2 linked regions of the Homo sapiens genome follow. The protein of the gene in region 1 interacts with the protein of each later gene in a pairwise test. Each region holds a gene or a part of one and is shown on either strand. Other genes may lie near its edges. The genes, in order: ZNF566 and KIF2C.

Region 1 (3,819 bases):
ACCCTGATTCAAAAACAAAAACAAAAACTGTGTTCATTTTGGGAGAATTGACATCAATATTCAATCTATAGTACATATGGTATATGTCGACATTTGTTAAGATCCTTAATTTCTCTTACCAATTTGTCATTTTTAGTAACATTTTTGATAGCTTTATACCTGAGTATTTGATGTTTATTATGGAAACTGTGAATAGTATTTACATTTTAAACAATTTTCCAATTACTTGTTACTAGAAATGCAATTGATTTTTATATATTGTCTCTATATGAGACCATGTTGTTTAATTCACTTGCTAATTTTAAGAATTTATTATTTAGGATTTTCTATGTCTGCAACTTATCATCTGTGAATAATGATAGTTTTCTTTCTTTCCTACCAATCTTTATACCTTTTATTTCTTCATCGTGCCCTATTATACTGGCCAAGCCCTTTATTACATTGTTAAAAAGAAATGATGATAATGCACATTATTCTTTTTTTCCTGGATTCAGGGGGACATTTTTCAGTGTTTCAACATTAGTTATAACATTAGCTCTAGGATTTGATATTTTCCTACATACAAGCTCATACATTAGCCTGTTAGTTTCATGAATGCTGGCAGAAAACATGAGACCCCTGGATCAGAGACAAAGACTTTATTACTCATGGCACAGCAAGCAGCGTAGGCATCAGTGTTCATCAGTTCCTATTTCTCTCAGCTCCCATGGGGACAGCATGTGGGTCTACATGGATGCTATTCATGCAGTGCATGGGCATAGCCACTGAGGAACACTGAGCCTGGATAATCCATTGCTTTTATAGTCAGCAGTAAGCAACCCTACTGTTCGTGCTCTTATCTCAACTCTCAAGGTTATCAGCTGCATAAATAACCCTGGGAAATGAGTAGTTAGAATCTTGCATTCTAGGCATACCCAGCAAGACGCCTAAGAATGTGGAGACCCATGGTAACTGTCTCTCCCAACAGTAGGTATTTCTTAGATGCTACTCATCAAGTTGAGAAAGTTTTCTTTCTTATTTCGTGAGACTTTTTTTTTTTTTTTTTTACATTAATGAGGGCTGAATTTAAAAGAGAGGAGCAGATCCCCTGATGTAAGAATTCAGCATGGGAGGCTGCCCTCTGGGGCAAAGATGAGGAGTGTTGAGAATGCAACAAGCATGGTATGGAGCTGTTGAAGTGGGAATGTTTCATGCCATCCTGCTTGGAAGGTACAGCATTTGAAGACATCCCTTTAACCAGAGGAAGGCCAGGAGGAGAGACCAGAAAGGAGGGCTTAAAATGAGGAATATAGAAGAAGGAACTCTGTTTCCAGATCTTTCTGGATTATTTTTGACTCTTTAGTATCTAGCACAATGCCTGGCTATTATATATCATAGGCTATTTGGTTGATAAAAGAATACTAAGAGCTTAATATGTAGTAGTAATAATAATAATATCAGCGTGCATTTAGGTTTTAAAGAAGAGACACTTGTATTCCTTTGGTATTCATCTGGGGAAATGCAGTGAGTGAGTGCCTATGGGTAGAGGAAGCCATTAGATAATTGATAACATGGTGCTACTTTCTGGGTGGTCAGTTTTATATGAAATAATTGATGAATTGTTTAATGATCAAGAAGCTTGGTGCATAGAGAATAATAGTGCTCTTTATAGTTTGTATAATTTTAAGTTTATTAAGTTCTTGTAGCTAATAAGCAAAACACCAAAATTTTCTTAAACATTTAAACATTGATCACTAATTCAGTTCTTCCCCTTAAACAATGTAGTCTTCCTTTAGTATTTTAGTATAACTTATTCTTTTGGGCACTTTAAACATCTTAAAGTGAAGATGTTTATAAAGAATACACACAAGGCTGGGTGTGGTGTCTCACGCTTATAATCCCAGCACTTTGGAAGGTCAGGATTTTGAGACCAGCCTGGCCAACATGGTGAAACCCGTCTCTACTAAAAATACAAAAATTAGGCGGGCGTGGTGGCGGGAGCCTGTAGTCCCAGCTACTTAGGAGGCTGAGGCAGGAGAATGGCGTGAACCTGGGAGGCGGAGCTTGCAGTGAGCCAAGATCGCGCCATTGCACTCCAGCCTGGGCGACAGAGCAAGACTCCGTCTCAAAAAAACAAACAAACAAACAAAAAAAAAACAGAAACAGAAAACTGGTTTGACCCAGGTATATCCAAACTTAAAATGTGTATAATCTCTGAGCAATTATACTTTTAGGAATTAATTGTGAAGAACTCATATACAGGTAAAATGACATATGCACAAGGATATTTATTACAGCATTGTTTGTTACAGTGAAAAACTAGAAAAAGCCTAAATGATGATTGGCCACAGATTGGTTAAATAAATAAAGTTATGGCCAGGCGCGGTGGCTCATACCTGTAATCTTAGCACATTGGGAGGTGGAGTCGGGCGGATCATGAGGTCAGGAGATCGAGACCATCCTGGCTAACAGAGTGAAACCCCATCACTACTAAAAATACAAAAAATTAGCCGGGCGTGGTGGCACATGCCTGTAGTCCCAGCTACTTGGGAGGCTGAGGCAGAAGAATCGCTTGAACCCAGGACGCGGAGGTTGCAGTGAGCCAAGATTGCACCACTGCACTCCAGCCTGGGGGACAGAGTGAGACTCTGTCTCAAAAAGAAAAGAAAAAAAAAATTAAGTTATATCCATTTAATGGACTGCAATGTAGCTATTAAACCAGTTATGTAACACAATATGTGCTAATTGGGACTTCATTCCAAGATATGTAAAGTAAAAATAGCAACGTGTATAAGTAGTGTGTATAATATGAGTTAAAAAAATCTATATGTATGTATGTGTGTGTATATAAACATATATTCTCCAAGCCATATTGAGTTGCCCTAATCCATCCTGCTCCAGTTACAGCCTGGTATCTTTGAAGCTAGGGATGATAGAGACATTTGCCCATTCTCCTCACTGATACCCCACAAGCATTTCTGAAGCATGAACAGAAGGAAAATGATCATTCTGGGCCAGGAGCTGTGAGGAAAGTGGGGTCTTATCTATCTTCTTTTGCCTCTCCCAGCTCTACCCTTCTCCAAAAGAAGAGCCAAGAGAAGGTCCTTTTCTACAAATATCAGAGCCATGGCTCAGGTGAGATACTGTTTCCTTTTGCTCAGATAGAGTGATTTTTACTTCTAGTAACTGTAAACATTTGCTTTCCTCATGATGATGCTTTTTGATGTTAGAAAAACAACACCTTTCAAAAAGTTTGGTTATGAGCAATGTCAGAATTTTGCTGTAAAGGAAAGGATCTCTAACAGGCCAATTCATAGAAAAAAAAAGAATTGATTACATAATCATTGTTAGAAAATTTACCCTTTTTTTTTTTTTTTCGAGATGGAGTCTCGCTCTGTCTTCTAGGCTGGAGTACAGTGGCACAATCTTGGCTTACTGCAACCTCTGCCTCCAGGGTTCAAGTGATTCTCCTACTTCAGCCTCCTGAGTAGCTGGGATTACAGGCGCCCACAACCACACCCAGCTAATTTTTGTATTTTTAGTAGAGATGAGTTTTTGCCATGTTGTCCAGGCTGGCCTCGAATTCCTGACCTCAAGTTATCCACCCGCCTCAGCCTCCCAAAGAGCTGGGATTATAAGCATGAGCCACTGTGCCCAGAAAAAAATTTATATTAATTCACTGTTAACTGTTAGTCAGCCAAGTGGTTGAATAACAAATTTCTCTGAAGAAGTTTTAATTTAGATTAATGTCCATCAGAAAATCCCCTATCAGTTTCATCAAGAATACTTATTTCTTTCTTTCCATAAAGAGATTTAAGAATTATGTAATGTAAAAATTAT
Region 2 (3,819 bases), on another chromosome or scaffold:
GTAAATATCCCTATGAGGGTACTGGGTGCTGTATTAGAAAGAGCAGATCTGGGGCCAGGTGCAGTGGCTCACACCTTTAATCCCAGCACTTTGGGAGGCCAAGGCGAGCGGATCACCTGAGGTCAGGAGTTTGAGACCAGCCTGACCAACAGGGCGAAACCCTGTTTCTACTAAAAATACAAAATTAGCCAGGTGTGATGGCAGGCGCCTGTAATCCCAGCTATGTGGGAGGCTGAGGCAAGAGAATCGCTGGAACCTGGGAGGCGGAGGTTGCAGTGAGCCGAGATTGTGCCCCTGCATTCCAGTCTGGGCAACAAGAGCAAAACTCCGTCTCAAAAAAAAAAAAAAAAAAAAAAAAAGCAGATAGAGCAGATCTGGAGTTCCCCAAATCTGTGAACCCCAGTGGGCAATGGTGTGGCTGCATAAGGCACAGAAGAACCCCTGGAGCCTGGCCAGCCCTGCCTCAGCACGTAACGGGTGATACCTCATTCAGTATCCACTCAAGGATGGGCCACTAAGCTGCCAAAGGGTGTGACCCAAAGAAAACACAAGAAGCGAGGAAGAGCCTCAGAATTCAGCACGTCTGTGAGTAGTGTTACCACGATGTCCCACAAAAAAAGGGGATGGAAGGGCACAAGGAGGGAAAAATGGATGCAAGGGACTAACCTGTAGACAACTTCATTCGAAGCTGTTTCATCAAATGCAAAGTCAAAGCAGAATGCTTGGTTCTCCAGATACTTTGTTAAGTCCACTTTCAACTTGGGTTCATGTACCAAGAGGAGACACTTGCTAGGAATGGAAATCACATCAATTTCTTTCTTGGCCAATTCTGCAGAAGGAGAGTATTTCAGGGGGTGCTCCCTGGAAACAGAAGGCCCATTAGTCAGTCTGAAGCCTCTTCCTGACTGAACAGGACTTACCTTGCTTATTCAGTGGGCGTTTCCTAACACAGACACATATTCTGTGCTCTTCGATCTGCAAGCGGATGAGAGGAGGCAACCAACAGCAAAGGGTCAGAGCAATTTCAAAAGCGAGCTTGTCCAGAACTCCCACCCCTTCCAATCCCATGTCTGGCCCAGTCAGAGGCCAAGATCTAACACTAGGACCCCTGCATCCTCCATTAGATACTCCAGAGCACAAGAAGGGAGCACTGGATTTTGTTCCCATTTTTCTCACTCTGCTGCCTACAAGAGTTTCAGCACTACTTTCATGATTTTTACTAATGCAGGAATCTAGCCAACCTATGGTATGGGGGTGGAACCCAGTTTATAAAGATCAGACCCCTCCCCATGTGGGCCTCACTAGCTTCAGCCCACCAAAGGATATTAAAAAATAACCTCGGCTGGGCATGGTGGCTCACGCCTGTAATCCCAGCACTTTGGGAGGCTGAGGTGGGCAGATCACGAGGTCAGGAGTTCGACACCAGCCTGACCAACATGGTAAAACCCCATCTCTACTAAAAATACAAAAATTACCTAGGCGTGGTGGCACATGCCTGTAATCCCAGCTACTGGGGAGGCTGAGGCAGGAGAATCACTTAAACCTGGGAGGTGGAGGCTGCAGTGAGCCAAGACCATGCCATTGCACTCCAGCCTGGGCGACAGAGCGAGACTCTGTCTCAAAAAAAAGTAAAATAAAATAACCTCAGCCAGGCACAGTAGCTTACACCTGTAATCCCAGCACTTTGGGAAGTCAAGGTAGGCGGATTCCTTGAACCCAGAAGTTCCAGATTGGCCTGGGCAACATGGTGAAACCCTGTCTCTACCAAAAATACAAAAAATCAGTAGGGTGCGGTGGAATGCATCTATGGTCCCAGCTACCTGGGAGGATGAGGTGGGGAGGATCACTCAAGCCCAGGGAAGTGGAGGTTGCAGTGATCCAAGATCGTACCACTGCACTCCAGCCTGGGTGACAGAGTGAGACCCCATCTCAAAAAAAAATAATAATAAAACCCTCAAAGGTGAGTAAAGATTCCTGCATGCCCTCATTCCTGTAAAGAGAAGTTTTCTGTCTCTCAATTGTACACTTAAGAAAGAGAAGTTCTTTGGATGTACTTACAGGATCAGTCATAGTAAGTGGATGACATTCCAAAGTAGCCCGAAATTCTTTAATCATTCGGGCAAATTCCCAGTTTGGAAAACTACTGTCATACTCCTGGTTTGAGACGAGAGTGAAAAAGGGCAGACTGTTAAGATATAAGTGCTCTCAGACCCCTATGCGGCAGCAGCAACAGCTCTTTGCTCACCACCCTTCATAGTTGTCAAAGTCCCTGCCCTGGCTCTGGGTTGAGAAGCCAGGTACAAAGCACTGGGGAAGAGATTGGCAGAGGGGCCTAAGCATACGCCAAAGCACGCTAGGAACTGGAACTAGGGCCAGTTCCACATTTTAGGAGGCACAGCAGATCGGGCTTCCCAGAAGCAATGAACCCAAATAAGGGGACTGTACTGCAGTCCCTGCCCTCCAAATACGTACAACTTGGGGGAGGATAGGAGAGAGCAGACCAATTGTGCCCTGCAGCCCCTCTGGCCATCACGCCATGTGAGCATGTGATGGGCTTGCTTACTAGACAGTCAGCATGAAATGTTCCTCATCTGAGGGCCTTCAGAAACATTTCTGAATTATTTGTTCTCTGAATCCTGATAAACCAGTTAAATTTCCTGGATATCAGAATTGGAGCGTCAGAGGCCAGGCGCAACAGCTCATGCCTACAATCCCAGCACTTTGGAAGGCCAAGCATTCCAGACCAGCCTGGGCAAAATAGCGAAACTCTGTCTCTACTAAAAATACAAAAAATTAGCGGCACATGCCTGTAATCCCAGCTACTTGGGAGGCTGAGGCCCAAGAATCACTTGAACCCAGAGGTGGAGGTTGCAGTGAGCCGAGATCACACCACTGCACTCCAGCCAGGGCAACAGAGCAAAAAAAAAAAAAAAAAAAAAAAAAAAGAATTGGGGCCTCAAGAACTGGAGCCTCAGAAATGCTGGGGCCCAACTGTATCTCTGTTGCCCGTAGAGTTTCGGTTAAGGACACCTGTCCAAAAACCCTTACCCTAGTCTCCCAAGAAAGGTACCTGAGCTCTCTTCATTCTCATTTCAGAGTTCTGGGCCTTCTTCTCTTCTCGCTTGTTCTTCATTTTTTCCACTTCCTTCACAAGACATGATTTCCTCCGAACTATGAAAACATAAAAAAAAAAGAAAAAAAAAGGAAGCCCACTCTGTTACCAGTTTAAGCCAGCCTACTCTTCTCTGGCTATTTACTGAGTACTGGGCCTTTCCCAGGGAGAGGCCTTCTCTAGATCCTTACTCTTAAATCACTATATGCAAAAAGAAGTAATAGATGTGACTCTCGGGATGGACAAGTCCACAAAGTAGTGGCCTGGCCAATATGAAGTCAAATAGTGATAACTGCACTCCAGTTCTAACCCAAGCTCTTCCTATGCATCTTGGCTACTTTCTCAACAACCACAGAAGTGAAACAGTTCTTGTTTTGTCTTGATAATGAAAGACTGATTCCATGGCCAGAGGAAAACATGCCCCCACGTGACAAACAGGGCTTGAACTCAGGTGCCAAGGTAGGCCAGGTTTAGGACAGGATGTAAACTATCTGTGCCTCACTAGAAGCAGAACAGCAGACAGCTCAGTGTGTCTACCTGAGTTCACAGGGTTTGCAGAAGAGCTGCCTCGGATGGAATGGACTTGCTCTTCCATCTCCTCGCTGACCATCCTCAATGGTATTTCAGCCACTGCAGGGCAGGAAGGCCTAGTGGGGGCAGCTGTAGGGGAACAAGAGTCACTGGAGAAGCAGGCAAGTATACCACAG

The links.
Region 2: the proteins of ZNF566 (region 1) and KIF2C interact in a two-hybrid assay, tested with the Homo sapiens proteins (one large-scale study listed by BioGRID and IntAct).

What each region holds. Positions count from the first base shown.
Region 1 is NC_000019.10:36,475,844-36,479,662, reverse strand, and holds part of ZNF566 (zinc finger protein 566), read left to right. Parts: intron 1-3,046; 5' UTR 3,047-3,105; coding exon 3,106-3,114; intron 3,115-3,819. UniProt on the Homo sapiens protein: May be involved in transcriptional regulation.
Region 2 is NC_000001.11:44,753,085-44,756,903, reverse strand, and holds part of KIF2C (kinesin-like protein KIF2C), read right to left. Parts: intron 3,773-3,819; coding exon 3,650-3,772; intron 3,172-3,649; coding exon 3,071-3,171; intron 2,155-3,070; coding exon 2,059-2,154; intron 976-2,058; coding exon 921-975; intron 830-920; coding exon 667-829; intron 1-666. UniProt on the Homo sapiens protein: In complex with KIF18B, constitutes the major microtubule plus-end depolymerizing activity in mitotic cells. Regulates the turnover of microtubules at the kinetochore and functions in chromosome segregation during mitosis.